Linked DNA regions of Homo sapiens. The protein of the gene in region 4 interacts with the protein of the main gene of each other region in a pairwise test. Each region holds a gene or a part of one and is shown on either strand. Other genes may lie near its edges. The genes, in order: MTFR2, PPL, CDC73 and ALAS1.

Evidence for each region.
Region 1: the proteins of ALAS1 (region 4) and MTFR2 interact in binary tests that used the Homo sapiens proteins (3 or more experiments, as listed by UniProt).
Region 2: the proteins of ALAS1 (region 4) and PPL interact in binary tests that used the Homo sapiens proteins (3 or more experiments, as listed by UniProt).
Region 3: the proteins of ALAS1 (region 4) and CDC73 interact in a two-hybrid assay, tested with the Homo sapiens proteins (3 studies listed by BioGRID and IntAct).

What each region holds. Positions count from the first base shown.
Region 1 is NC_000006.12:136,240,100-136,247,973, forward strand, and holds part of MTFR2 (mitochondrial fission regulator 2), read right to left. Parts: intron 7,462-7,874; exon of another isoform or gene 7,362-7,461; intron 4,771-7,361; coding exon 4,666-4,770; intron 2,875-4,665; coding exon 2,762-2,874; intron 1,578-2,761; coding exon 1,345-1,577; intron 1-1,344. UniProt on the Homo sapiens protein: May play a role in mitochondrial aerobic respiration essentially in the testis. Can also promote mitochondrial fission.
Region 2 is NC_000016.10:4,933,931-4,942,010, forward strand, and holds the start of PPL (periplakin), read right to left. Parts: upstream 3,219-8,080; 5' UTR 3,116-3,218; coding exon 3,054-3,115; exon of another isoform or gene 2,968-3,053; coding exon of another isoform or gene 2,867-2,967; intron 1-2,866. UniProt on the Homo sapiens protein: Component of the cornified envelope of keratinocytes. May link the cornified envelope to desmosomes and intermediate filaments. May act as a localization signal in PKB/AKT-mediated signaling.
Region 3 is NC_000001.11:193,145,877-193,153,750, reverse strand, and holds part of CDC73 (parafibromin), read right to left. Parts: intron 5,885-7,874; coding exon 5,786-5,884; intron 3,448-5,785; coding exon 3,369-3,447; intron 1,372-3,368; coding exon 1,307-1,371; intron 1-1,306.
Region 4 is NC_000003.12:52,194,202-52,202,033, reverse strand, and holds the start of ALAS1 (5-aminolevulinate synthase, non-specific, mitochondrial isoform 1 precursor), read right to left. Parts: upstream 3,875-7,832; 5' UTR 3,779-3,874; intron 3,363-3,778; 5' UTR 3,216-3,362; coding exon of another isoform or gene 3,186-3,215; intron 2,825-3,185; 5' UTR 2,814-2,824; coding exon of another isoform or gene 2,793-2,813; coding exon 2,594-2,792; intron 1-2,593.

The DNA.
Region 1 (7,874 bases), on a different chromosome or scaffold from region 4:
ATTCACATACACTCTGAACTTCATCCTCTATTTTAAAAAAGCTAAAACAGAAATCAACAACTTGTAGTTAGAAACACAAATTGATGTATTCACTGTATAATGACATTGGAGAAATAAGCATATTATTTTCTAAGCAAAGCTTAAGATGGGTACTGAGTATTTAACTTTTCCACTTTAAGATTTGCTCATAAAGGACTGTGGGTAAACACGATTGCTTAAGAAAACTGTGTATAGTTATATATCATTTTATTTATTATGTATAAATATAAGTTATTGTATATTATATAATGTGTTTATATGTAAATGTTATAAATATACACTGTATAAATATCTTAAATTATATGTGTATTTATGCATTTGTATATATACATATGTATTAAAAAATTTTTAGCAATTATATTTACACACAGCCCTTTACAGCCAAATCTGTTGTGAAAAGCATTCAGTACCTAGATTGCTTTACATTTTATACACGCATACATACATGTTGTGTGTATGTGTGTGCATAAGTTTAAAGCAAGTTGTATCTCTATAAATTTATAAAACAATCATCTGGAAAACATGACTCACCTCAACTTGGTGGAAGTGTAGCAGCAATAACTAAAAACTATAAACATATGATGCCTCAAACCTATATCCTCTTTCAAACCAATGCATTCTTCCTCTTTAATATCCAATGCTTTCATGAAGAGTTAGAAAAGCTTACTGAGGGCCGGGCGCGGTGGCTCACGCCTGTAATCCCAGCACTTTGGGAGGCCAAGGCGGGCAGATCACGAGGTCAGGAGATCGAGACCATCCTGGCTAACACGGTGAAACCCCGTCTCTACTAAAAATACAAAAAATTAGCCGAGCGTGGTGGCGGGCGCCTGTAGTCCCAGCTACTCGAGAGGCTGAGGCAGGAGAATGGCGTGAACCCGGGAGGTGGAGCTTGCAGTGAGCCAAGATCGTGCCACTGCACTCCAGCCTGGGCGACAGAGCAAGACTGCGTCTCAAAAAAAAAAAAAAAAAGCTTACTTAGAAGACAACAGACTTTTTAATACAAAAATACAATCTTCTAGTATAGTAAAGCTAGTTCTTCTTTAAATCAAAGCCATCCCCTCACTACAAATGTGTCTTAATTTATCCTGAATAAACATCAGATATAATAATTTTGTATATTCAACATCCTTTTATGTACATTTAATGTTTTCATGGTACTTATTCAGAATTGTACTCACTTAAATACTAGATGTTCCTGTATGCTACTATACGTACTATATTCAGTACAGTATCATGCTGTACAGGTTGGTATAGGCTATACCATGAGTATCATCTAACTGAAACAAAAATCCTACTGTTACTTACTAGAATTTGTACTATTTTTCAGTTCCTGCATTTCCACAATTGCTGCAATCTGAGAGCGAAGAAAAGTCAGCTCATTTTCAAGGGCAGCTATTTTTCTAATTGCAGCTTCATTTACAGGCAGGTCATTTTTCACAGTTTCTTTCTGTCTTACAGCAGGTGACAGTGGATCCCGAACTAGTCGCAAAGGATGAAAAATTTCCACTTTCTCTTCTTCATTTTTCCATATACTATTTCTGTGGGTGAAAAAAAATAGGAAATGGAGGGAAGATATATTTCCAATCAAAAGAGGTATAAACTCTTACACTCCTACGTGAAAATCAAAAGACAATAAAACAAAATAAAAGCTACTCTCAGGCCGGGCACAGTGGCTCACACCTGTAATCCCAACACTTTGGGGGCTGAGGCAGTGAATCACCTGAGGCCAGGAGTTCGAGACCAGCCTGGTCAAAATGGCGAAACCCTGTCTCTACTAAAAATATTTTTAAAAATTCGCCGGTGTGATGACGTGCCCCTGTAGTCCCAGCTACTCAGGAGGCTGAGGCAGGAGAATCACTTGAGCCTGGGAGGCAGAGGTTGTGGTGAGCCAAGATCGTGCCATTGCACTCCAGCCTGGTCGACAGAGTAAGACTCTGTCTCAAAAAAAAAAAAAAAAAAAAAAAAAAAAACCTACTCTCTATCCCCCATGATTGTTTCTAGAGTCACCACTGAGGACAAGGAAAATATCTTATTTAGCTTTGTATTCCCAATATAAACAGAACATAGCCTCCAATGGAGGACCAGTCAGTGACCAGGGAATGAACAAAACAAACTTTGCTTTTAGATTATAAAACCAAAATAATTACCTGCAATTGTTCTACTTATTAACTTTAAACGCAGGTAAGTTAATTTATTTAGAAGTTCTATATAAGTTAATAAAGAGCCTTACATTCAGGATTATGTTAGGGTGAAATGTATGTTATTTTAACTATTTGAAAATTGGTGCCAGTTTGATACATAATAAAATCAGCCGGAATACTTAAATAATTGACACTTAATGTGCTTAGAGCCTGTATCTGAATATACTAACATATAAAGTAATACTCCCTAGGAGTAACACATCCAAATTTTGAAATACATTTAACATCATTGCCTGGTGCACAGTAAACAGTATATAAGTTTTGGCTAAAAACATGATTCTAATATCCCTTTAATAACCACTCCCTCCTAGGCCTGGTGTTAGGTTTAAATGTGCACTAAAAAAAAAACAACTGGCTAAAAAAATGAAAAGCAGCCAGTCTTCTTTATTAAGAAGATACAGTAGGGCACAGCACAGTTTGAAGATAAACAAAACAAAAAAGCTCAATCAATCTTAACAAGCTTCGACACATGCAAGAATTCAGTTTATAGCCCACTTCCCAAGATAAGCATATAAAATTACCGAAATCTGAGATAACTGGCTTCTTCATCATTTGCCACATACAAAATATCAGCAAAAGATGGAACCATAGATCCACAATTATCAGAGTCTACAGAGTTCAAGAGCGGGATCAACTAAAGTAAAAAAAGAAAAAAATAGTCAGAGCTCTGCAGGGAGTCAGGAGAAGACACATGCCCCATGGTATTAAATTAGTTAACAATCCAAAAGAAAGAAAAATAAAAAGAATATTCAATAGAAAAACATGTACCTGTTAGCACGAAAGAACACTGGGGAAAATGTTATGCTGAAGTCTAAGCACTAAGCAATATTCTCTCCCCTGGTTAATTTCATCTATCACAAAATGCAAAATAAAATTAAGCTCTTCAGTTATTGTTCACACTTGCCCATCTGTGAATGTCATTACAGACATGTACCACGTAACATTTAGGTCGATCATGGACTGCATATACATGGGGTCACATAAGATTATGATGAAACTGAAATATTCCTATCACCTAGTATTTACTATATTATACTTTTTATTATTATTTTAGAGTGTATTCCTTCTACTTAAAAAGAAAAGTTGGCTGGGCATGGTGGTGCATTCCTGTAATCCCAGCACTTTGGGAGGCCAAGGCAGGAGGATCAATTAAGGCCAGGAGTTCAAGATCAGCCAGGGCAACATAGCAAGATCCCGTCTCTACCAGACCAAAAAAAAGTCAGCCAGGTGTGGTGGTGCACACCTCCCAAGTAGTCCCAGCTACTCAGGAGGCTGAGGTGGGAGGATCACTTGAGCCCAGGAGGTTGAGGCTGCAGTGAGCCGTTATCACGCGACTCCACTTCGTTCAGCCTGGGCGACAGCAAGACCTTATCTTAAAAAAAAAAAAAAAAAGTTAACTATACCACAGCCTCAGGAAGGTCCTTCAGGAGGTATTCCAGGAGAAGGTATTGTTATTATAGGAGATGAGAGCTCCATGCATGTTATTGCCACTGAAGGCCTTCCAGTAGGACAAGATGTGGAGGTAGAAGGCAGTGATATTGATGATTCTGCCCTGGGTAGGCCTAGGCTAACGTGTGTGCTTGTGTCTTAGTTTTAACAAAAAAATTTTAAAAGTATAAAAAATTTAAAAATTTTTAAATCATAAAAAGCTTATAGAATAAGGATATAAAAATATTTTGTATAGCAGTACAATGTGTGTTTTAAGATAAGTATTATTACAAAAGAGTCAAAAATTTTTACAAAATAAAAACATTTATAAAAAAAGTTACAGTAAGCTAAGGTTAATGTATTATTGAAGAAAGGGTTTTTGTATAAATTTAGTGTAGCCTAAGTGTACAGTGTTTATAAAGTCTACAGTAGTGTACAGTAATGTCCTAGGCCTTCAAATTCACTCACCACTCACTGACTCACCCAGAGCAACTTCCCATCTTCCATTCATGGTAGGTGCCCTATACGGACGTAACATTTTTTATCTAATTTTTACTGCATTGTTACCATACTTTTTCTATGTTTAGACACACAAACACTTACCATTGTGTAACAACTGCCTACAGTATTCGGTAAAGTAACATGCTGAAAAGGTTTGCAGACTAGAAGCAACAGGTCATACCATATAGCCTGGGTGCATAATAGGCCATATACCATCTAGGTTTGTGCCAGTACACTCTGTGATGTTTGCACAATGACAAAATCACCAAACAACGCTTTTCTCAAAATGTATCCCCCCATCATTAAACGATGCATGATTGTATTTAAATAAACAAAAACACAAAAACATATATGAAATGGCTTGTTCCCAAGGGTAAACTACAGGTTTTTGGCTTGCAGGAAATGTTTCTTCCTTTGTTGTTCTACCCCATACCTGTAAGAGTACCTAGGATTATTTTGTACTTGGTACTTAAACAATTTATGTTGACTGACTTACCTCAAAATTAGGTCTTCGACAAGGTTCCAGTGGAAGCATTTTCCCAATAATACGAACAATACTCCTAGTTGATCCATAGTCTTTATTTTCCCAAATCAGCAAAACCTATTTTAAACATAAAGTATGAATTAAAATGCACTCTGATTAAGCATATTTATATAAGTATGAAAAAAGGAGATGTAAAAAAGACAAAAAAGACGCAGTGGCATTTTTTTTTTAATACAGGGAGTCCTGTAAAATAACATTTATTTTTAAAAAGAAATATAGAATGGCAGAGCCTTTCTTCAAAGAATAGAACTTTGTGAGTATTTGTCTTAAAAAGAGATGGTAGTAAACATATATACATTCCAGGAAGATCTTTTAAAAAGCACAATTCATTTTGTTCTATTTCTGATAATGTCCAATACCTTGGGAGAAACTTTGTTCAAAAAAATTGCATCCCCTCCCCCAGCTACAAATCCCATCTTTTTGGCCCAACCAAAAATAGACAATTTCAAATTATCAAGCAACGACGTAATATGGAGTATACTTATGTAATTTCCTTTAAAGGAGAAATAAAAAAGGGAATAAATAAATCAGGTCCTAGACAATTCAGAGTTATTTACATAAAGTGAAATATATCTGCTGGCAGTCAGCTCTTGAAAAGGCATTAGAAGTAATAATGTGCTACTATAGCTCAAATAATACTTCATCCTTTAGTGTGGGCTTCCCAAATTAGTGTAAACCATTGCCACAGGAACCACTCTCCCCCACCAGCCAAAAGATGTGATATAATAAATTGGACATTTTTCCTAAGATCCCAACTGATATAGGTAGCCACCTATTAGCATCCTCATTAAAACAACCAATAAACCGCCGGTCTCAGCTGTTAAACAACAGCAACAACTAACAACAGCAGGCTAAATAAACTGTGGGTTGTGCACCTGCGTTTTGATTGTGACCCATCATGTGAGGTCAGGTGTAAAATTTTCCCATTGTGGTGTCATGCTGGCACTCAAGACATTTGGGATTTTGGAGCATTTCAGATTTCAGGTTTTGAGTGATGCTCAACCGATAATATTTTTAAATTGCTAAGATTATTTTACATTTTTTTCACACTCAGTCTTCAAAATCCCTTATATAGGTTACACCTATAGAAGATCTCAATTCAGATATTTTGAGTACTTAAAAGTGACATGTGGCCAGTGGCTATCATACTGGATTGCACAGCCTAGAGGATATAGATCCCAGACCTATTACTAGTAGAATATTTGGAGGATTGAGCATTTATATTTAAAGTGTTCTACAGACCATTCATCTGCGTACCCCTGCTAAGAACAACAGGCATAGAGGCTTTGCTACCATGACGGCTACCTATGACATATACAGTCACCCAAGAGTTGGGTTAGTTCTTAGTTAATTTAAATGATACCTTCCTATCTTGCTCGGCAGTTTCCATCCTAATAAACTCTTGTCCTTCCTCTCATTCCTTCATTGCCCCTGGCCATCTTCACCATTTTCGTTGTTGTTGTTGTTTGCTTTTTGAGGTTTTTTTTTTGAGATGGGGTCTCACTCTGTCACCCAGGCTGGAGTGCAGGGCATGATCAGGGTTCACTGCAACCTCCACCTCCCAGGCTCAAGCAATCCTCCTACCTCAGCCTCTGGAGTAGCTGGGACCACAGGTGCACACAACCATGCCTGGTTAATTTTTATATTTTTTATAGAGACGAGGTTTCATCATGTTGCCCAAGCTGGTCTTGAAAACCTGAGCTCAAGTGATATGCCTGCCTCAGCCTCCCACAGTGTTGGGATTACAGGGGCGACCCACCACATCTGGCCATCTTCACCATTCTTATTATTTCATCTTCCCTCTATTCCTGGTCTAGTACCCACATTTTGACTTTACTAATTTTCCTACCAAGCATGGATTTTCTGGTTAATTATTTCAGTAATATGTTCAATGCCACTCAAAAATGGTTCATTCTTTTGATATTATGTGCTCCCACACTGCTAATGAATACACTACTGTAATTACTCTTAGCTAGGAAAAAAAAATCACAAAACGACAATATTTAGAAAAACTACAATTCCATGATGACTTCAGCTGGGTTCTCACAGGTATTCTGAAATCCCTTCATAACATGTTACATTCTATACCACATTGCCCAGAGCAGTCTCCAATCTCTGAAATCCCTTCTCAAATCCCACCACTTCATTACCTGCAAGTGACCTTGTCTCTGCTCTTACTGAGAAAACCGAGAACTTCAACTTGACATACCTCAACTTCACTTCTCTTACTTAGCTCCATTCAAAATCTCTTTTCAGGCCAGGCGCAGGGGCTCACGCCTGTAATCCCAGCACTTCGGAAGGCCAAGGCAGGTGGATCACTTGAGGTTAGGAATTCAAGACCAGCCTGGCCAACGTGGTAAAACCCCATCTCTACTAAAAATATAAAAATCAGTTGGGCATTGGTGGCAGGCTCCTGTAATCCCAGCTACGCGGGAGGCTGGGGCAGGAGAATCACTTGAACCTCGGAGCAGAGGTTGCAGTGAGCCAAGATTGCACCACTGCACTCCAGCCTGGGCAACAGAGCAAGACTCCATCTTAAAAAAAAAAAAAATCTCTTTTCACTCTCTCTCACTTTCATTCTGTTCTTTAAGGCAGGACAGTCTCTCTCCTTTCCAAGACTTATTTAATTAGATCCCTTGCCCAACTACCTTCTCAAAGGCGGTGCTCAATCCTCTCTCATGTGGATCTTAAATTTCTTCCTGTCTGTTTCTTCCAGAGTGATGACAAATATGCTGAAGTTACTTCTAACTTTAAAAGAAAAAGAAAAATTCCATCCTGCGGCCCCTTCAGGCTGATGGCCTCTCTCAATTTCTTTTCACAAGCAAACTTTTCAAAAGAAGGTTGCTGATCCCACCTCCCTTCCTGATATTCTTCAAACTACTCCAACACAGTCCCATTCTCCACTTACAGAAATTCTTAAGGTCACCAATAACCTAATAGTGATAAACAAATGTTCAGCTGTTATCTTCAGTCTCTCGATTACTGATATTTAGAATGTTTCAATCACATCTAATGACATTTGCCATTATCGAAGTCCATGGCTTTAAATATCAAAACAAAGCAGATAACTCCCAAAACTGAATCTTTTTCTTTCCTACATACTAAAACCATATATATATCCAATTGTCTGAAGGATATTTCTACTTATATGTTCTAACATC
Region 2 (8,080 bases), on a different chromosome or scaffold from region 4:
CCGCTTATCATTCACAACCTTTCCCCTGCATTATTTCATTTAATCCTGAGCCAACATCGCCAGGCAGGCACCGTGCTTATTCCCATCCCACAGGTGAGAAAACAGGCTCAGAGAAGCCAAGCAGCTCCTCTGAGGTCGCACAGCCAGGAGGGTGGCAGCGGGTCTCCTCCAGGGCCTCTCTACTAGGCTGGAGGCTGTCCTCGGTCACCTGCACCATCTGGCCTGACTCTGTCATTAGCTCAGGTGTGAACATCAACTCCCACACCTGTCATTAGGAACCCGGGCAACGGGAGCAACGGGGTTCACACCCTGTCCCGGCCCTCCCCAGCTTCAGCTGCTAAAAGGCAGACAAACTGGAAGGGGTGGCTTTCTCGGTGGGGTGTTCCGTTCACTAATCCACACTTTGTAGTCCAAAGGCCTGACTACCTTGGGTATGAAAGTCACCACTTGGGGCTCCTGGGTCCCCTGGGCTCGGAAAGGGCTGCTACCCTCATCCGGGCACCTCCTGTGTGCTACAGCACTGCTCCTCCCAGCAGCCCTATGCATGAGACACTCAGTATTACCACCCGTGCTGTGCAGAAAGGGAAAACAAGGCTTCGAGAGGCTCCAGGGTGGAGATGCCAGGATCAACAGTGAGGCATTCTGCTCTCAGTGCTGGAGCTCCTACTGCCCCCCATGCTGAATCTCACCAGCAATTTTGTCCTCCCCCAGACAATGGAGCGGGCCCCTGGAAAACTCAGAGTGAAGGAATAACTTGGGGATCCACTCCCTGTGACCAGCGACCACAGCCTAGAGCCGCAAGTCTGTCCCCTCCACCCCCCCACCAAGACACTTGCTATGGGGCTGGCTGGGCATCAGGCAATGTTCAAGAGATGCGTTTGAGAGGATGGGGTACAGGGCTACCCCCACCCCACAATCCAGTCTGCGAACTAGTCCCCACTAAGGGGAGGGGGCAGAGGGATGCACTGGGCTTGGAGACCACCCGGGGAGGCATCTGACATCTGCTCAGGGCTGTGGCTGTGCTCATTCTGTGCTGGGGTGGCAAGGCTCAAAGGAATGGTCTTGCACCCCAGGCTGGGGAGAGAATCAGGAGGGCTTCCTGGAGAAAGAGACGTCTAAATGGAGATCTGGGACCAATGGCTATCAGCCTAGGACAGACCGTGGCTGCCTTGGGCCAGATATACAGAGAGTGGCAGGACCCCAAATCTTTGCCACCCCAGACCCTCCCAGTCCCTGCAGCTATAAAGGATGGGATGCCTTTCATCCTCATGCTTCTGGGAAAGCCCGCACCCCTCCCAGCTTGTCTGGGTTCATTAGAACCTTTTGTTAGGTCCAAGCTGGGGCCTTCAGGATGGAGAGCTGCACGAAGGAGGGAGGCTGGGAGGAGGCAGAGGGCGGGGCGAGGCCTGGCCCCACCACTGGTATGTGGGTGTCTGCATGTGTGAAGGACTGGATGGGTCTAGTCTCTGGGGTGGAGAGGACAGAACGGTTCTCCACGGCTGGCACGGAGCATCCAATTGTGCAATGCCCCAGGGAACAGTGCAGGGACTGGACGGGCCTCTGGTTGGGTCTGAGTGCCAGCTGGACGCAGCCATGGAGGAGGGGTGTGCAGGCCCTGCCCAGTCTCTGGGGTTGTGAAAGATAGGGGAGGGGTGGGGAAATCTCTAAAGGCGGGTAATGCCTCTGAGCTTGAAAGAGCCCAAACGGAGATACGGGTGGGTGGGATCACAGGGCAGGGGGGTTTCTGAAAGGGCTGGAAGGCCCCGGAATGGAGTGTCGCACTCCAGCGTGCTAGGGCCCCGCCGCCTGCACCTGTCCGACTGGTCGGCCTAGGCCGGACTGCAGGGGTTGAGTGGGAGCCCTGGGCCCAGAGGCCTCTCCTTGCCTAGGGAAGAAGTGAGGAGCTGCTTGAGGGCACAGTGGGGGCTCCCAGTGAGAGCAGCTTGGGGGCAGAACTCCCAGACAGGAGAGCCATGTAATGTGCGGGCCCCTCACCTGCCTGAAGCCTCTTGTCCGAGAAGCTGGCAAAATGGTCCTTGCTAGCCCAGAGCCCCCACTCTATTTTCCGAAGTGGGGATATAAGGCAGGGGCTGGATTCCCACCCCCTCCGTCAATCTCAGCATCTCCACCAGGCTCCCCTAAACCGGTTATTAAGTGAACACATTAGGCTTATCAAAAGGGACGTGGGCTGCTTCTCCCTGCAAACACATCAAGACATGCCATTCCCCTCCCAGGCCGCCCTGGGAACCCGCGGCTCAGAGACGCCGCCAGTTTCGGGGCTGGGGTGGGGGCAGGGAGCCACACCCCTGCGAAACCGAGCTTCGAAGAGGAGGCCCCGAAGCCGCCCAACCTCCGCTCAGAACCCAGAGGGTGGGGAGGTAAGGGGGTGCCTCCCCCTGTGCCCCTCGACCCGACCCCACACCCCCCAGGGCCTCCGGGCGCGGCTCTGGCGCGCAGGGTGGCAGGTGCCGGGAAGTGCAGCGGCGGGTGGCCCGCCCCCTCCGGACACCCATCCCTCGCCTCCCCGACGCCAGGAACACTTGCGCGGTCTCAGAGGCGCTGGAGAGCGCCCCCCGACGCCAGCTCAGTTTCCCTGCCTCAGGGCGCCCCCTGGACGGAGCTTCCTGGGTCGCCCGCAGCGACCCCGCCTTGAGTGCCCGGTCCTCCAAAAACTCCGCCCCCTCATCCAGGTGACTATTCCCGGTCCTGTGCGACCCTCTGCGCAAGAGCGACCCTGGGACACGGGGGTGCCCTGTACCCCCAGCTCAGCTGCCCGTGCCCTAGGCCCTCAAGGCAATGCTCCCTGGGCTCCCGGAGTCCCCTGTGTTATGCTCCCCCTCGGGGACCCCAGCCAGTCCCTTCCCACCTGGCGGCGCTTCCCAGCTTCAGGGTGGCCTCGGTCCCGCGTTCCCGAGAGTCCCGCACTCCGGGTTCAGTTCCCGGTTCCTGGACCCCCGTACCCCCCATTCCTACACTGCCCGGGAGGTCTTCCAGGTCCTGTGCGCCCACAGGGGCAAGAGCGTCCCGGAGCGGAGCTGTGGGCGCCTCCTCACCTCCGGGTCTGCACAGTGGGGCTGTATTTGCCTTTGTTTCTCTTCCTGAAGAGCGAGTTCATGGTGGCGCTCGGGGTGCGGGCGGCGGCGGCTGGCGGGCCGGGCGCGCACCGAGGGGCGGGCGGGAGCGCAGGTGAGCGAGCGGCGGCGCGGGGAGCCCGGACTGCGGCGCGGCAGTGGCTCCGGGTCCCTACTCGCTGGGGGCGGGGCGCCCGCCGGCCACTGGCTCTGCGGGCCGCTCCCCGAGAAGGTGGTGCTTACCTTCCCGAGGAGGGGCCACCGCGCGGGCGGGGCTTGGACGCGGGGGTGGGGACACTGGGTCTTGGCCGGACGCCGCCCACCCCCAGCCGGGGGACTCCGGAGGCCGGGCAGGCACTGGGGCGCAAAGGCCGCCGGGGCGAGCGCTCGCAGCCCCACCCTCCTCGGGCCCGGCGCGCCTCTGGCCGAGGCCTTCACCTGGTTCTGCGCTACCGCGGAACTCGGCGCTCCTGGTGCTTTGGCGGACACCCAGCTGGGCCCCGCAAGACAGGTGCGGCAGAGACCCGCACGGATTCATGTGCCCTAGTAGCTAGCGAATTGCACTCAGATGGTGGCAATTGAGGGAAGGGGGCTGAACTGCCGAGGGCGCCGGCCTGAGTTCAAGCCCTGCCACCCCCAGGTTGGCTGACACTCCTGGGCAAGGTGTTTTACTGCTCCCAGCCACAGTTTACTTCTTTGTCAAACGGTGATAACCACCACCCCATCCGAAAGGCCTGTGGGGATGTCCCTGCAGGTAATGCACGCAAAGCGCTGAGCGCAGTGCCCTGGCCTGAATCTGCTCTCCGCTTGCCATCTCGGGTGGACAAAAACTCCTTTGAAACTTCAATAACTCCAGGCCCTGGCACTAGAAGAGCGCTTCATAGCTGGTCATAAAAGCTGCTCGATTGCGGCTCAGAACAACGACGTTGCACAATTCTGCCAGCATGTCCTGGCCCAGACTGTGTGCCAGTGGAGGAGGCTGCCCTTAGACAGAAACCTAATCTGACCTGAAGCCCGGATGGCACACACCACCACACCTGGCTAATTTTTAAAAATTTTTGTAGAGGCAGAGTTTCACCATGTTGCCCAGGCTGGTCTTGAACTCCTGTGCTCAAGTGATCTGCCGGCCTACAGCCTCCCAAAGTGCTGGGATTACAGATATTAGCCACCGTGCCCAGCCAACCTTATTCTTAATGGGGCTTCTATGGGTGGGCTTAACCCATTTATGCCTGAGGTTGCAATTTTTTGAATTGATAAATCATACCTTGGCAGTGACCTTGAGCAGTAGGAGATAACTCCCACAGGCGTCACGTTCCAATAATGGACCACTAGGCGTAAATAGAGGTGTGATTCCTCCTAAAGTTGTGCCTGCCTGCCTGCCTTCCTTCTTTCCTTCCTCTCTCTTTCCTTTCTTGCTTTCTTGCTTTCTTTCTTCTTTCTTCTTTGAGACTCAGTTGCCCAGGCTGGAGTGCATTGGCACAATCATAGCTCACTGCAGCCTTGACTTTTGGGGCTCAAGCAATCCTCCCACCTCAGCTTCCCGAGTAGCTGGATCCACAGGTGTCCACCACCACGCCTGGCTAATTTTTAAAACCTTTATATTTATATATGTTTTTTGTAGAGATGGGGTCTCGCTGTGTTGCCCAAGCTGGTCTTGAATTCCTGGGCTCAAGCAGTCCTCCCACCTTGGCCTCCCAAAGTGCTGGGATTTCAGGTGTGAGCCACTGCACCCAGCCCTAAAGTTGCTTTCAAAATGTGTGTGTCCAAATGTGCATTTTTCTGGGGGAGGATGTATTGCTCAGTGGAGTCATTTACTCATTCAACACATGTTTCCCATCACTCTCACAGCCTCAGTGTGCCTGGCTCTGCTTGTTGTACACGGATGAGAAAAGGGAAAAGAACAACACAAAAGGGGCTTTCTCTTTGGGAGCTTTCAGGTCCCGGGGCAGGGGACACATATTAAAAATGTTAACTTGGATGGGCGCGGTGGCTCACTCCTGTAATCCCAGTACTTTGAGAGGTCGAGGCAGGGGGATCACCTGAGGTCAGGAGTTCAAGACCAGCCTGACCAACATGGTGAAACCCCGTCTCTCCTAAAAATAAAAAATTAGCTGGGCGTGGTGGCGCCTGCCTGTAGTCCCAGCTACTTGGGAAGCTGAGGCAGGAGAATCTCTTGAAACTGGGAAGGGGAGGTTGCAGTGAGCTCATATCACGCCACTGCACTCCAGCCTGGGAGGTCACAGTGAGCTGAGATCGTGCCACTGCACTCCAGCCTGGGCGACAGAGTGAGACTTCGTCAAAAAACAAAAACAAAAACAAAAACACGTTAACTTTTCTTTTTCTTTCTTTTTTTTTGGAGATAGGGTCTTGCTGTGTTGCTCCGGCTGGAGTGCAGTGGCGTGATCATGGCTCACTGCAGCCTTCCTTGACCTCCCAGACGGAAGCCGTTGTCTCTTCTCAGCCTCCCTCTCAAGTAGCTGGGACCACAGGTGTGCACCACCATGCCTGGCTAATTTTTTTTAAATTAATTAATTATTATTTTTTTTTTGACAGTCTGGCTCTTGTCGCCCAGGCTGGAGTGCAATGACACACTCTCGGCTCACTGCAACCTCTGCCTCCTGGATTCAAGCAACTCTCCTGCTGCCACCACGCCCTGCTAATTTTTGTATTTTTAGTAGAGACAGAGTTTTGCCATGTTGGCCAAGCTGGTCTTGAACTCCTGACCTTGTGATCTGCCTGCCTCAGCCTCCCAAAGTGCTGGGATTACAGCTGTGAGCCACTGTGCCTGGCCTTTTTAAATTTTTTTAATTAATTAATTAATTATTTAATTTTTTTTGAGACAGAGTCTTGCTCTGTCGCCCAGGATGGAGTGCAGTGGCATGATCTCGGCTCACTGCAAGCTCCGCTTCCTGGGTTCATGCCATTATCCTGCCTCAGCCTCCCAAGTAGCTGGGACTACAGGCGCCCGCCACAACGCCTGGCTAATTTTTTGTATTTTTTAGGAGAGACGGGGTTTCACCATGTTAGCCAGGATGGTCTTGATCTCCTGAACTTGTGATCCACCCACCTCGGCCTCCCAAAGTGCTAGGATTACAGGCGTGAGCCACCACGCCCGGCCTTTAATTTATTTTTTTTAGAAGGAGTCTCACTCTACCACCGGGCTGGAGTGCAGTGGTGCAATCTCGGCTCACTGCAACCTCCGACTCCCTGGTTCAAGGGATTCTCCTGCCTCAGCCTCCCGAGTAGCTGAGATCACAGGCACGTGCCACCATGGCCAACTAAATTTTGTATTTTTAGTAGAGACGGCTCAAACTCTTGACCTCAGATGACCTGCCTGCCTTGGTCTCCCAAAGTTCTGGGATTACAGGTGTGAGTCACTGCACCCGGCCGCCTGGCTAATTTTTAAAATTCTTTGTAGAGATGGGCTCTTACTATGTTGCCCAGGGTGGTCTTGAACTCCTACAGGCTCAAGCAATCCACCTGCGTCAGCCTCCCAAAGTGCTGGGATTGCAGGCGTCAGTCCCTGCGCCGGCCAAATTGTGAACTCCTTGAAGGGGTCTGGGGACATATGGGGGAGAAAGACCCTGGGAGAGGCGGTGGTTCTAACATTGTTGCACCTTAGAATCTCTACAGGAGTTTGTAAAAGGCATATTCTGGGGCCCTGGGACCCTTGACATCCTGATTGGGGGGGTCTGAAGAGGGAGGGGCCTAAGAATCTGAAATCTGGACAAGCTTCCCTGGGTGGTCTGAGGCCTCAGTGTGTGCAGCCTCCCAGCTGCTCAGGCAGACAGCCCTGAACAGACCTCCCCAGCAAACCCAGTCCTTCCCCAACTCGGCTCTGCCTGGCTCAGTTTCGGGTGCCGCCCCCAGGTGGGCATTTCTCATTGGCAGGTAAGGGCATGACAATGCCCTCCCTCGTCCAAAAGTGACTTCCTTGCCTAGATCTCAGGGCCCCGAAGGGATGCTTCCTCCAGCCAGCTGATATTGGGAGCAGGTGTTAGAGAGGAGCTGGGGTTTCAGAACACAGGTGTGCGGGGAGTCACCTTGCACCCGCAGAAGCCTGAACTCAACATGGAGCTGGCTCAGCACACAGACCCCTTCCCCATACCCCAAGAGGGGTTCCCAGGGAACTTGTGCGTCCTTGCTGTCGCCCCCTGGTCTGCCTATGCCTGGACACCCTCTCCTTTCTCGTTCCCCATACCTTTCCCCACAGGTGGGCTCTTACTCCGGGCTCAGCATGCCTTGAGGATGGTCACTGCAGCAGTGTTGCTGACCTTGTACTAAGTGTGCATCCTGGGATGCTTTTGGCAACACAGTTGCTAATGGAGAAGCTCTGTAAAGAAACTGCTGCCTATTTGGAGGGGGATGGTCCGGTAACCAGGGCTGCCTACACCAGGAAGACCCTGCAGCTGGAAAAGGGGCAGATGTGGAGACCATATGTAGACTAACATGGAGTGGAGTGCCAGATGCAAAGTGCAAAAGAAAGAGGGAAAGACAGAGTGTGTGGTGTGTAACATGCTTGTCTATGCACAAAAAACTTCTGGAAGGATACATGAGAAACCGTTGCTGAATCTCCCCAAAAAGGACAAGAAAGAAGTTTGAATTTCTTTTCTTTTTGAGATGGAGTTTCACTCTCGTTGCTCAGGCTGGAGTGCAGTGGCGCGATCTTGGCTCACTGCAACCTTCGCCTCCCAGCCATTCTCCTACCTCAGCCCCCCAAGTAGCTGGGATTACAGGTGTGTGCCACCACGCCCAGCTAATTTTGTATTTTTAGTAGAGATGGGGTTTCACCATGTTGGTCAGGCTGGTTTTGAACTCCTGACCTCAAGTGATCCACCGCCTTGGCCTCCCAAAGTGTGGGGATTACAGGCGTGAGCCACTGCGCCTGGCCATTTTTTTTTTTTTTTTTTTTGAGATGGATGGAGTCTTGCTCTGTCACCCAGGCTAGAGTGCAGTGGCGCGAACTCGCCTCACTGCAACCTCTACCTCCTGGAGTCAAGTGATTCTCC
Region 3 (7,874 bases), on a different chromosome or scaffold from region 4:
ATGAATTCATTAATCTACACATAATTTAATAATACAAAAACAAATCTGATGACAATTTAAAAACAAGTATATTAACAAAATATCTGATATCCAATCCCAATTTGAAGTCCAGAAAAAAACAAACTTAAAATCAGATCTCTATACTTGCTATTTGCTTTTGGAAATGAGTGAGTAAAACACGTAAAAGCCCACGTAGATATAAAGTTATATGTTAATTCTGAGAAACCACAGCACATATATAATGATTCCATGTTATATAGAGTCCGTAAAGATCTGATGATTCACAAGCAAAGACAAAAGTTTGGTATTAGTGTCTTAAGTATACTCTATTTAATACACATGCATAGTATTTTAAAAGTATAATAATCTAGAATATAAATAAAAGTATAAAAGGTAGAATGGTCTAGAATATAAATATGCAAAATGAGGTTAACAGAATTCCTGTTCTACATCACCAAGTCCGATCATTAAATAAAAATTTAAAATGTTAAATATGGCTTGGTCAGAATATATAGAAATAACCATTTTTAGGTTAAAAAAAGAAAGTTTGCTAAACATGAACCAAAGGCTTATATTCACAGATACCCAAGTATTTAGTTCTGTTAATTACATACTTTGTAAGCATTATAATCACTATAATCCATCTCTTTAAAGAGCGAAAGACATTACATTGTTAAAAACAAGGCTGGGCACGGTGGCTCACACTTGTAATCCCAGCACTTCAGGAGGCTGAGGCGGGCGATCACGAGGTCAGGAGATCCAGACCACAGCGAAACCCCGTCTCTACTAAAAATACAAGAAAATTAGCTGGGCATGGTGGTGGGCACCTGTAGTCCCAGCTACTCGCAGAGGCTGAGGCAGGAGAATGGCGTGAACCCGGGAGGCGGAGGTTGCAGTGAGCCGAGATCGCACCACTGCACTCCAGCCTGGGCGACAGAGCGAGACTCTGTCTCAAAAAAATAAATAAATAAATAAAAATAAAAACAAAAGATATTATGCGAAAAAGCTCTCCCAAACTGACCTCATAACTTAAAGGCTTTAAATACTGACCAGGTGGCATTGCCCTACTTGCAAGTTAATCAAATCAGCTTTTATTTACATATATTCAACTTAATTTGAAGGAAAAGAAAAATGAAACAGGATACCCATGAATCAAATAATACACCACACAGATCAATCAGCACAAGTGATCAATAAAGAAAAATGTTTGAAATAAAAAATATGAGAGACTAAAGATTTACTTCAACATGTGCTACTCACATAAAATCCCTGGAACAAAAGAACATCTACAGCCAAATTAACTTACCGTTACAGATTTCAGTGTCATACCATGGTAGGTTCCCATAGTGTCAATTTTGAAGCCTTCCGTTTCTACGAAAAAAAAGAGGCTTATTGTTAAGATTTTATAGATCATGTATCTTATGACCTATAACAAATCTAAAGTAATAATCTACATTGAATGTGATGGTTCAATAATATACAAAGCCTTGAATCTACTATGTAAAATTAAATTACGTACTTGTGAAGATAAAAACTTTAAAAAGGACTCTAGGTTAAAAAATATTAATATATTAAATACAGACCAGCAAGCCTATTGTATAGAAGCTGGTTAAGACTATCTCTGCAATTATGTTCAAAAATTAAGATTGAATACTTTATAACCCCAAATTACTTACTACTAATACTCAATGATAGTACCACTAAAAGCATCTAATACCATGAAAAGACCCAAAGTTATAAAAAGTAGTGTTCCAAAGTTTCAGTCATAAGGCATATACTTATTTTTATATACATACATACATATATATTTTTTCTTTTGAGACAGGGTCTCACTCTGTCACCTAGGCTGGAGTACAGTGGCACTGCAGTTCACTGCAACCTCTTCTCCCATCCCCCCTCCACAGGTTCAAGCAATCCTCCCACCTCAGCCTCCCGAGTAGCTAGGACCACTGGCATGCACCACCACACCCAGGTATTTTTTTGTATTTTTAGTAGAGATGCGGTTTTGCCATGTTGCTCAGGCTGGTCACAAAGTACTGAACTCAAGCAATCCTCCTGCCTCCACCTCCAAAAGTGCTGGGATTACAGGTGTGAGCTACAGCAATCAACCATATTACATATTTTATAGAAAGCAATGTTGTAAATAATGATTGGAGTGCCAGGACAGAATCCCAATATGCCTTTCTGTAAAGGCAAATATTTTAACACATTGCAAGCCTTAAAATCTGTCACAACTGCCCAATTCTGTATTTTAGTGCAAAAGCAGAATAAACAATATATGTGATCAATTGGGGGCAACCCAATTTGGCCCATGGAGGGTGATATTTAGTTTGGGGGCTGTAATTTATCAACCTCTGCTTTATATAATTCATTCCTCAAGAAAAACATTGAATATTATAATGAAAGAATGGACGTAGTCTTTCTATGGCACATATCCAGTGCATGCCTTTAACAACTGAATGAAGTCAGCACACAAAATTCATTGCATCAAGGCAACATATCATTTAAAAAAAACTTAAATGAAGATTTCAGATTATGCTTAAAAATATCATTAACTTCCAGTTGCTTCTACCTAATATTTTCATGAATCAAGTCATGATGAATGAAGATCCCAAGAGGAAGTTACACTGACATTAGTCTCACCTCACAACTGCAGAAATGGTGTTATTGCATTAGCCAGAATACCACGTAGACTATCACAAAGTAAGTCCTCCCATCATTGCTCAAAATTTGTTTCCAAGTTCTCAATGTACATACACATTTATAACTTGGGAAAAATGACTTAACATATAGAATCTCTACTTTAAATTATATAAAAACAAAAGCAGTATGAATAACAGCAAACATTTATAGATAATTTACTTACATATCAGATACTATTCTGGGAATTCAATATTTATTAACCAGTCCAATACTCACAATAATGGTAAGAGACAGGCACTATAATAACATTTTAATTATACACAGGAGAAAACTAAGGCAGAATGCAGTTAAAGTAACATTAAAATTCACACAAAAAGTTACTACGACATAAGCTATCTGGATCCAGAATCCATGCTATTAACCAGGGGTTGGCCAACTTTTTTTCTGTAAAGGGCCAGATAATATTTTTAGGCTTTGTAGGCTACACAGTCTCTACTGAAACAATTCAATACTGATGTCACAAAGCCAAAGCAGCCATATATAAAATACATAAATGAATGAGTGTGGTTGTGTCCCAACAAAATGTTATTTAAGAAAAATTGCAGTGGGTAAGATCTGGTCTGTAGACATTACTTTGCCAACCCTTACCCTTAAACATCAGGCCACACTGCCTCTCAAGTTCAACACAACCACACTAAGGGGAAGATAAGAATTAAGCAACTTGCCTTCTTTTCCTTTGAATCTTTCCTGATCGTATCTGTTATAGGCAGCTGGGATAGGCTGTTTGGTGCGCAAAGTGGGATCCTGTAAAAAAATTAATTATGAGTTACTTGTTAATATTTTTAAATGTCACTTATTTAATGTGCTGGAGTGCAGTAGCATGACCATGGCTCACTGCAGCCAAGACCTCCTGGGCCCAAGTGATCCTCCCACCTCAGCCTTCCAAGTAGCTGGGACCACAGGCATGCACCACCACACTCAGCTAATTTTTTTTTTTTTATAAAGACAAAGTTTCACCATGCTGCTCAAGCTGGTTTTGAATCCCAGCCTCAGGTGATCGACCTCAGTCTCGCAAAGTGCTAAGATTACAGGCATGAGCCACCATACCTGGCTAAAGTACCTTTACGACATAATACTCTTCCCTGCAATTATGATTGTTTTAACAAAACAAAAAAACCCAAATTATTAATCCTTAAATAAACATGAAAGCCATGATGATTAATCCATTATAAACAGAGTAAGACTGAAGACGTATTTTTTTTAAATAATTAGAAAAGGCTGTCAGTCTAATGATGCATTATTTAATCACAAATACTTTATCAAAACTCACAATGTTTAACAAACTAAAAACACATATTTAGGAATATTCCCAAAGCTACTTGGAAAATTCATGAAGACTGAAATACTTTTCATTTTATTATGATAGGATTCTATATCAAATATTATGCCAAATAAAATATACTTATCAATACCTATCAAGAATGATAAGTATATGCTTACTTCACACTAGGCATATACTTCTATAGTCAAATGCCAAACATTAAAACCTTCAAGTATTCTAACGATTATATAAATATACAGAAAGAATAATCAGTCACAAATGGTAAAACTGTTTTAAGGTTTGACATGTTTCCTATCAACAGCTATTCAAAATGTCAACAAATTCATAATTCTAAGTACCTTGTGCTTTGCCATCATAGCTCTTACTCCACTACTTTAAAAAAAAAAAAACATCTAATAAGTAGGGAACTGCTGAGAGATCTAGGTTACATGGTCGTTTGAGAATCTAACTAAACCCTGAGGATCTGAGGTGGAACAGTTTCATTCCAAAAACCTCCCCCTGGTCCATGAAAAAACTGTCTTCTACGAAACTGGTCCCTGGTGCCAAAAAGGTTGGGGACTGCTGTATTAGACTATAAGCTCAAAGAAAGTAGGGACTATAATCTTTCTCACTATTGTATCTCAAGATCATTAGCAGACTTCCTAATAGAAGGCACTTAAGTACTTGATGGAGAGTCAACTAAAAGTATTTATCTAATTATCAACAAAAGCCTACCATCTTTAAAAGTTAAATTCCAACAATTTCATGAGCAAATAAAACTACTACAAAGTAGTTGCAAAGGCTGTATTAGTACTCTAATACATTTCAATGTGCCTTTTAAAACTTGAAACAGAGTTTTAAAAATATAGAAGGTTTTCTGGAAGGCCGAGGTGGGCAGATCACCTGAGGTCAGAAGTTCAAGACCGGCCTGGTCTTGAACAGGACGAAACCCCATCTCTACTAAAAATACAAAAATTAGCTGGGTGGGGTGGCATGCGCCTGTAATCCTGGCTACTTGGGAGGCTGAGGCAGAAGAATCGCTTGAACCCAGGAGGCGGAGGTTGCAGTGAGCCAAGATCGTGCCACTGACTCCAGCCTGGGCAACAGAGTGAGACTGTCTCAAAAAAAAAAAAAAAAAAAAAAAAAATTATAAATTTTCTATTTATAGAATCTTCTATTTTCTATTGCAGAAAATAGAAACAATTTCATTTGTATGTTTTATTCCTTTGTTGAATCATATGAAAATAGCTGGAAGGATTTTCAACAAAATTAGAGGATGTTTGAATTTAAATATAGGCTATATGTCATACGTGAAATTTACTTTGGGAGGGTCTTAAGTGGCACTTCAAAGAGAAGGCAGTCAACTCTCAGAGCAGCTGAAATGGAGGTACAATTAAAGGACAGCATGGCTGGTGATCAAGAGAAATACATTCACCAAGATGTAATAGATACAATGCCAAAAAGAACCCCAAACTGGGAGTTAACAGGGATTTATGTTATTAACAATGGTTAGCAATTGTCCCAAGCAACAATGAGTAGGCCAGCCACAGTTTACCTAAAATAAATAGAGGGCTTTCCCTAATTAACCTTTTTCAGACTCTGACCCAGGTATATTAAGAATTACTGCTCCAGTTAAGAATTACTGCTGAAGTAAGTAACTTTTAATGTTGGGGAGGGCTTTCACATCTTTCAGATATGCTAAAGGAGCAAAAGGTTTAGAATCCACTGATTTTAAAATGTGAAGATGTCTTCAACGTTACTACACTGCAATATAAGTGGCAACTTCATTAAATCTACTGTAAAGCAGTAAAGCATTCTTACCACAGGTGCTGCATTTGGGGCAGGTCGCTGTTCAGGTGCACGCCCTTCTTCTCTGGCTTTTACAGATTGAAGAATTGCAAAAATGTTCTTGGAAAAATTCTAAAATATAAATGGATTTTAATTAAGCCCACTTTAAATATACAATAGTAAATTTAGTTGATAATTTAAGACTAAGTTATCTTACTATCGATTCTTCCCTACTACATATGTCATAAGGTATCATTATTATACACATATGTAAAAACCAACCACTACTAAGATATTGATCCAGAGACTGATTATTGTAAATCCCATGGTATTCATTTCATCATTTTCATTTTACTTAAACTGCTACATTCGGGAGGCCAAGGCAGGCAGATCACGAGGTCAGGAGATGGAGACCACCCTGGCTAACACAGGTGAAACCCCGTCTCTACTAAAAATACAAAAAATTGGCTGGGCGTGGTGGCAGGTGCCTGTAGTCCCAGCTACTCGGGAGGCTGAGGCAGGAATATGGTGTGAACACGGGAGGCGGAGTTTGCAGTGAGCCAAGATCATGCCACTGCACTCCAGCCTGGGCAATAGAACGAGACTCCATCTCAAAAAAAAAAAAGAAAAAAAAAACTGCTACAAATGTATTCATATTCTGCATCTGTTCAAATATATAACCAGAAAGCAAGTTAAAATCTAAATAAGGCCGGGCACGGTGGCTCGTGACTGTAATCCCAGCACTTTGGGAGGCAGAGGCAGGTGGATCATGAGGTCAGGAGATTGAGGCCATTCTGGCTAATACGGTGAAATCCCGTCTCTACCAAAACTACAAAAAATTAGCTGGGCGTGGTGGTGGACACCTATAGTGTCAGCTACTTGGGAGGCTGAGGCAGGAGAATGGCGTGAATCCAGCAGGTGGAGCTTGCAGTGAGCCGTGATAGCGCCACTGCACTCCACCCTGGGAGACAGAGCAAGAATCCGTCTAAAAAAAAAAATCTAAATAAAATATAAATACATTTGTCAAAAGAGGCTTCTAGTTCAGAAAAAAAAATAATCAACTACTACATCCTCCTGTTAAACTCCAGTGCTAATTTCAGATTGCTACATATGAGTTTTGAGATACTATCAGAAGTCAATGTACACTTTTCAAAGATGTGTAAGTTGGAAAGTACAAGTACAAATGCTCTTCAACTCACAATGCAATTACATGCTGATCAAAAGTCAACACAGCTAACTAATCTGACGACTCTTTCCTTCATGAAATATTCTTCCTTCATGCTATGGATTGAATGTCTCCTCTAAAACCCATGTTGAAATTTTATTCCATTCTAATAGTATTAGGAGGTGGAGCCTTTAGGAGGTGATTAGGTAGGTCATAGGGCTCCACCCTTACGAATGGATTAATGTTGTTATTGCAAAAGTGGGCTCGGATTCCCGAAAGAGTAAGTTTGGCCCCATTTCTCTCTGTGTCTCATTTGCTTGCTTGCTTGCTTGCTTGCTTGCTTGCTTGCTTGCTTGCTTCTGCCTTCTGCCATGAAATGACCCTCACCAGATGCCACTGCTATGCTCTTGGATTTCCCAGCCTACAGAAATATGAGAAATAAATTTCTTGTCTTCATAAATTACCCAGTCTGTGATATCCACAGCAGCACAAAACAGACAAAGATACTTGGCCTCTGAGATGCTACTCTCTCTTGGTTTTACCCCTAATGTCTGACAGTTCCTTTGGGGCTCTTCTTATGCTGCCTATCAATCACTTAACATTTGAAGGAATATGTAGTAAGAATCTACTCTAAGCCAAACACCTTGCTTGGCACTTGGGTACAATGATGATCAAAAAAGACATGGTCGCTGCCCTCATGAACCTCAAATACAACATAATTTCTCTTCTTTAAACAAGGCATTCTGTTTCCTTGGCTGGGACCACTCTTCCCACCTTACCCCTCTCACCTCCCTCACTAGTTTTTGTTCTTTAGGTATCACTCCTCTTTACTCTCAACTAAGTTAACTGCCCTTGCTGGGTGTCTGCCCTATAATGTACGTAATAATTACCGCTTATTTAATATTGACTTCTGCTGAAGAGTATAACTTCTGTGAGAGCTAGGACCAATGCACCTCT
Region 4 (7,832 bases):
CTAGTTTTTCATCTGCTTCACAGGAAACAATGCGTCTATGAAGAGTTAACTGGCACATTCCAGTTGCCTCTTAAACCCACAGTATTTCTCGTCATAAATCCAAAAAAAGTACCATTTTCTAGTTTTAGACAACCCGGAATCCTTGAGTTGGATCATTTCCAGTAATTTCTACCCCAACTACACTCAGCTTATTTTATGAGAGGACACACTCTGTAAGGTAACGGGAAATATTCACACACATTTTTTTCTCTGCTAACATTTTCCTTTCCTTTTTTTTTGAAACAGGATCTCACTCTGTCAACCAGGCTAGAGTGCATGGTGCAATCATAGCTAACTGCAGCTTTGACCTCCAGGCTCAAGTGATCCTCTCACCTTAGCTCTCCAAGTAGCTTGGACTGCAGGTGTTCTACTGCGCCCAGCTAATTCTTTTTATTTTTTATTTTTTGTAGAGACGGAGTCTTGTTATGTGGCCCTAGCTTCTATCAAACTCCTAGGCTCAAGCAGTCCTCCCGCCTCAGCCTCCCAAAGTGCTGGAATTACAGGCATGAGCCACCACATCCTGTCTCTGCTGACATTTTCTAAACAGATTCTTGACAAAGAGGCTTGCTGTTGCTTAACATAAAAGCTATTGGTTTTCATCTAAACAACAGAAATTAGACTAAGACTTAGGTCTTTAGATTGCTAATAAAGTAAGAAAAAATAGGGGTATATCACATTCACATACCTCATCTACTTTCTCATCTAAATTCATCAAAGTCTGCTGACTAAACACCGTTGGCTGGTAATTATCCTTCTAGCTACAGTGACTTCCCTCTCCCCTTGAGCAAATTCATTCACCTTCTTTCTAGAAAAGTCTTTCTTCATCATTCTGGAACACTCCTGTGAGTCACTGGCTAGCCTTTCCTATAACTTGGGTAAAGTGTCTCAATACAGTTTTCATTAAAATCTTCTATAACGGAAGGCCAAAAAAATTATTTTGAAGTTAATTTCATTTATTATAAAAGTAATACATATTCATTAAAGTCTAGAAAAAGAAAAAAATCCTATCATTTAAAACATAGCCATTGCAAGCATTTTGGTAAAAAAGACGTAACTAACTCTTGAAAATAAACCCTACAAAGGATTAAATCCTTTCTGCTTAAAGAAAAAAAAAACTTATTTTCTTACAAGCCCACACCCAGAGAACACGCCTAAGAAAAACCTGTAAAATATTCTCTGGGATTAAGTGGAACCTGAAAAGCTTTGTTCTCTCCTATCAGAAGCAGAGCAAACTAAATTCAACTCTAGTCTCTTTGTTAAAAACAACAACAACAAATGTATATACAAATAAAGATACATGGCATGATCTCAGCTCACTGCAACCTCTACCTCCCGGGTTCAAGCAATTCTCATGCCTCAGCCTCCCAAATAGCTGGGATTACAGGCGTACACCACCACATCCAGCTAATTTTGTATTTTTTGTAACAGTGGGGTTTCACCATGTGGCCAGGCTGGTCTCGAACTCCTGGCCTCAGGTGATCAAACCACCTCGGCCTCCCAAAGCGCTGGGATTACAGGAGTGAGCCACTGCACACAGCCAAGATAAATTTGTTTTTAAAAATCACTAATAAATACTGTACAATTTCACTTATATGAGGTACCTAGAATAGTCAAATTCATAGAGACAGAAAGCAGAATGGTGGTTGTCAGGGGTTGGGGAGAGAGGAATGGAGAGTTACTGTTTGATGGGTATAGAATTTCAGTTTGGGAAGATGAAAAAAGTTCTGGAGATGGATGGTGGTGGTGACACAACAATATGAATGTACCACTGAACTGCACATTTTTAAGTGCTTAAAATGGTAATTTTTCTTGGGCATTTTACCACAACAGAACAAAAACTTTTAAGAAAAAAAAAATCACTACTTTAAAAAGCCAAAGGGGCCGGGCACGGTGGCTCACGCCTGCAATCCCAGCACTCTGGGAGGCTGAGGCAGGTGGATCATTTGAGGTCAGGAGTTTGAGACCAGCCGGACCAACAAGGTGAAACCCTACTAAAAGTACAAAAATTATCTGGGCGTGGTGGTGCATGCCTGTAATTCCAGATACTTGGAAGGCTGAGGCAGGAGAATCACTTGAACCTGGGAGGTGGAGGTTGCAGTAAGCCGAGACTGCATCACTGCACTCCAACCTGGGCGACAGAGCAAGACTCAGTCTCAAAAAAGAAAAATTAAATAAATAAAAAGCCGAAGGCCAAATGTTTAATGAGGGAAATTAGAAGGCTAAATGTTTAATGAGGGAAATTAGAACATTCCAATTTAATATTTATGTGAACGAGGCACTGAGGAAACACTAAAACCCCTATAGACACTAACGTGCAATCCAAAAACCTGTAATGTGCAACACTGGCCACTGTTTCACCTTTAAAGATGGAAAAGCTAAAAGTGCCTACCCTTGGGGGGACAATCATATGAGATAATCTGTGCTCAGAGCCCAGCCTGCACATAGCAGCCCTCTGTGAGTGAGTGTGACCCTCACCACCACTGTGGGGACTGCTTCTAGTCTACCAATGAGCACAAACACCCATACCTGCTCCTTCATTGTCAATGACACTTACTCTCACTGGCCGGAGGGGTTTCTTTGATCTGTTGGTAGTGTACTGCTGCAGTGGACAATGCCCGAGGGGCTGGCTTGGCCCCAACTTCCATCATCTTGGGGCAGTTTTGGGCATAGAACAACAGAGATTTGCCTGCTTTCTGCAGAAAGGCCTGGGGGACTCGGGATAAGAATGGGCAGCGGCGAACAACACTCTCCATGTTCAGGAAGTATGCTGGCTCCTGTGGAAAGACTGATGAAGAGTGACATCAACAGTTGTTAATAATCAGGCAAATATCACTGCAAGCTCACTGGATTCAGGTGTCAACCGCAGTTTATATAAAGGGTACCCTGGAATACTAACACTTCTCCCTCAAAAATGCCTAAGGACAGCACTGATGTGAGCTAAGGAATGGTGACCACACTTTACCCGGGTCACCAACTTCTTCATTCTCCAGCGCTACACAAAGGCACCTGCAAAGCAACTTCACCAAATGAATACTGACAGTACATAATCAAGGGGGCGGAAGGATGAGGGAAAGGTCAAGAACAGGTTTGGGAGGCCAGAGGTTTCTTAGGGAGATGCACAGTGCAGATAAGACATCTTGGCTTACATCTAGGTGGAGAAGAAGCCACTCATCCATCCAGGCAGGGAAGACTCTTAGGGATCCTGACTTTCTCCTGGTCCCCACATCCCCTAAACCCGAGGAAGGGGTCCAGCAGGGTCCCGAGTCCCTGAAGCAAGGATTCCTCCGTGGTCGTGTCCCCACAGCGGGAAGAACTGGGCATAACTGAGAAAGGAGGGGCACAAATGAGGGTAGGGGTATGAGGGCCAGCGCCTTGGGCCTCACTGGGGACGCGCAGGGGCTTATAAAGTCGAGGGAGTTGAGTCTGGAGAAAGAAGGCAGTCCTCCGGCAGTGGGGGTCAGAGGTGACCCGCGGTCGAGGTCTCGAGAATGACGGGAGGGGTATGAGAAGGGAATTCTAAAGCGGCGGGTTCAACCGGGAATAGCCGGAAGGGGCCGAAAGGGGGAAACTGAGGCGGCCGTCTAGGCAAAAGATCTGGAGGATAAACGCTGACCTCAAGGCGGCGGGTGACTGGGACAGTGGGGGATGGGGTCCCAGCACCCGGGGCAGCGGTGCCACGGCTGGCAGGACACCCCGGGGCTTCCTCGGCCGGCGCCGCACCTACCGCGCGGGCCCTCACCTGCGCTGAGGACTGCAGAGGCGGCGGCGAAGGAGGCGGGCACTCAAGTCGAGAAGTCCAAACGAAACGCTCGTTGCCCTTGTCCGGGAGCAGCCTCAGGCCGCGATCGCCGGCGCCTTAATATACAGCGGGAGTGACCGCTGCGCATGCGCCTTGGGCGCTGCCTTCTTCTGCGCAGGCGCGCCGCGTAGCCCTCGGCGAGCCGGGGGGGCGGGGCAGAGAGGCCCACTTCTTGGGCTCTGCGGATATCGGTGCTGCCGGGGATTCCCCGGCTCGCCTGCAGGGAGGAGGAAGCGCTAGGCGGTGGGCGGACGAGGTCTCTTTTCCCGACCTCATCCTGCACCCTCGTGCTGCCTCCCCACCAACTACCCTGGGCTTCAGAACCCTACGCCCCAATTGAGTATAAAATGGCAAGGTCGAGGCGAGGTGCCGCTAGGGCCAAGTTGGGGGCTACAGGGTTGTTAAGCTGGGTGTCTTGGACATGGAGGAAGAAGGAGATCCAAGGGGTTCTGGGCCGGGGTGTTAAGCAGGATCCATCCCGCCTGCGGCTTGCTTTGGAAACTGTGAACAAGGGCTTCCCGGAGGAGGTGGAGCTGGCTATATCGCCCACAAATGGAGTGGTCCTGGCAGGATGCGGAAGAAGCGGGACACTCAGCTGTGGCACTTTCTGGTCTAAGATGATCCAGAGGGGACAGAGGAACAGGGCTAGGGTGGAACCCATCCACTCCACAGCTCTGAGCACTTGGGGAGGAGGGGAAGGCACAGGGCCTGACAATAGTTAGCGTGTAACAAATATTAGCCACTATTTTTATTTTCCATCCAGGGTTGTCTGAAGCCCCTTGCTGGCCACCCTGGGCACCAGCAGGGTGGCTTAGGCCTCCATGCCAAAGGTCAGCGTTGGGCCATACCTCCATTGAGTTTCCCGGGTACAACACATAAAGTGTAGGGCTTGGCAAACCCGTCTCAGGAATGTCAGTCTGGCTTCCTTGCCCCACACCCTTCCCAGCTTGGCTTGGGCTGTGTTGGGCTGGGCCTGTGCCAGGCTCAGAGGTACTCTCCTCCATTCTTGAGGAAAGGGCCTTTGAGGGTATTCCTTTCCCAGCTGAGCATTAACAAGAGGGACAAAGTCCAGAATGATGGTGACCAGGGTGTGTCCAGGTACTTTGCATTTCTGTCTCTGAGCACCCAGCTGGCTGCAAGGCAGGTGAGGTGAGTCTCCACCTTCAGAGGAGGCACCTGGGTTCAGAGTGGCAGTGGGACCAGTCCAGGATGAGGGCTTTGGTCTGAGAGCTCGAGACCCAGTTCTGTGCCATTCAGCCAAGAGATCCTGGGCAGTGCCCATCACCCAGAGAAGATGAGAGAGAAAAGGTCAGCACTTGGACTTGGACCCAAGTGCAGCTGGAAGTGGGAACAGAATAAGGATGATATTGAGTGCTTTGCTCATCTTTGGGCCTTGCTTTCCTTATCTGGGCAATAGGATCATAATCCCTGAAATGCCTGCCTCACAGGTTGTTTTTGTTGTTGTTGTTATTTTGTTTGTTTGTTTGAGACAGAGTCTCCCTCTGTTGCCCAGGCCGGAGTGCAGTGGCACAATCTCGGCTCACTGCAACCTCTGCCTCCCAGGTTCAAGCGATTCTTCTGCCTCAGCCTCCTGAGCAGCTGGGATTACACCACCACGCCCAGCTAATTTTTGTATTTTTAGTAGAGATGGGGTTTCACCATGATGGCCAGGCTGGTCTTGAACTCCTGACCTCAAGTGATCACCCTCAGCTTCCCAAAGTTCTGGGATTATAGGCTTGAGCCACTGCGCCTGGCCCTCATAGGGTTTTTTTGGGGGTGATCAGAGCCAAAGCCAAAGCAGAAAGAACTGGATAGTGGAGTTGGGCATGGGTTTCAAACCCAGCTCTGAATCTTACTTGGCCATAGACTTGGGCAGGCCACAACCTCTTCAAGGCTTGGTTTCCTGATTTGTAAAGCTCTCCCGCCCTGCCACTTGTGGCTGGCAGGAGGGTCAGGTGAAGTCCTGTATTTCAGAGGCTTATTGTTTAAACCAGCCAGTCCCTAGCCCTCTGGGAGTTTCCTGTTTAATATAGAGAAAGATTGGGAAACAAGGCCGACTCACATGGAAAGTGAAATAGAGTGTTGTAAGCAACTCCAGATGGAGGAAGAGGAGGAGGCTATTACTCCAACAGGCGCTGAAAGAGGAGGATCCCAACCACGAGGAAGGCTTCCAGAAGAGAAGCGGGTGCTGGTTGGAAGGGTGGATCTACATGCGACTGGGAGACTGTGGGTGAAGCCTTGGATGGAAAAGGCTCAGCCCTGTGGGGGTGGCGGTTGGGGGGTCAGCGTGAGTCAGCCCAAATAGCTGGGCAACGGGAGTATGGTCAGGACCTGACGCCAAGAGGTCAGACCAGAAAGGCCCTAAATGAGCCACGGGGTTTCCCAGTGTCAGGGCCCAAAGAACCACCCCCAGGGTACCGGTCAAAATGCAGATTCCTGTGCCACACACCTTTGATTTTGACCCAGAAATCTGCATTTTAACCAGCTCCCCTTTCTGATGAGGTAAGGGTGAGGTATCTTGGAATATGTTTCTTGAGTGGTTCAAGGTTTGAGACCTTGAAGAGCAAGGCATAAGCCATGAGTTCTAGTCCTAACTCTGAGATCTTGAGCAAATTGCCTCATGCCTTAAATCTTAGTTTTTGTGTCTGTGAAATGAGAATGACCCCATCTGCCTCAGTGATGAGTCTGGGTGGGCACTATTCTGCTCCAGTTGTGATCCTTCGGGGCCTCTTCTTCTCCCCTCCGCCCCCTCCTCCTCTTCTTCTTTCTTTTTCTTCTTTTCCTTCTCCTTCTTCGCCTCTCACTCCTCCCTTGTCCTTCCCTCCTTCCCCATCTTCTTTTCCCTTTCTCTCCCTTTTTCTCTCTCCCTTACCCCTCCCTCCCTTTTCCCTCCTTCCCTCCTTCTCCCTCCCTCCCTTCCTTCTCAGAGCTACAGTATAAACTCATCTTATCACTCGCTCTGGCCCTGGGCAGCTGGAGTTGAGGCAAGGTCAGGCCCCATCCCAGGGATGACGCTGGGGACTTTTTTCCCTCCCACCCAGTCTGCATCATGGTCATCATTACCATCACTATCACCGTCCGGGGCTGCTGCACATAGTACCCACCCAATGGTCAAGGCAAAAGGAAAATGTCAACCCCAGCCCCTAGAATTCCCCCTTTTTATTCTGGGCCCCAGGAACTATTTTTATTTTTATTTTTATTTTTTCTCCCTTAAATAGCTGTTTATTAGCAATGTGCTAGAAAGGGTGATGGAGTTAGCATTCACAGACAACACACACCGCTGTCACGAGGGAGGCAAGCGCGCGGGCAAGCCAGCCTGGAGCCCCGAAGAGGAGTCCCCCTCTTCAAGAGAGCGTGGGAGGGGATGGGGCCTGGGGTGTTGGGGGGCAGCCTGGGAACACCTCCGCTTACTAGGCATGGTTAAAGATGAAGAGGGACTCACTGGCAGCAGCCCCAGCCTGACCGCTTGGAGTATACTTTCCTTGACAGGCGTGGCTATCTGCCAGGGCTCACTTGACATACTCCTTCTGCACAGCCTTCAGGTTCTCCTTCTTCCTGCCCCAGGCCTTCAGGGCAGAGGCCTGCAGGGCTCAGCTATATGAGAAGGTCAGGCCCCAGGGCTTCAGGAGGGGGCACTTGTTAATGGCATTGAGGTTGATGGACACTTCCTTGCTCTGGCCTCCAGACAGGAAGGTGATCCCAGGGACAGTGGGGGACACTGTGCAGTGCAGCACTTAGTTTTTGTGTCTGTGAAGTGAGAATGACCCCACCTGCCTCAGTGATGAGTCTGGGTGGGCCCTGTTCTGGCCCAGTTGTGATCCTTCTAGGCCGCTTATTCCCCAGAGTGTAGTGCTTGTGACAGTTGCCATGGCAATCTCCTCATGAGAAAACTTCTGGATGCAGGCATGGCCTGGGGTGACCATATTGGACTTCAGCAAGGTGCCTTCCAGGTAGATGTCATGGTCACTCAGAGCCTTGTAGAGCAGCCACACCT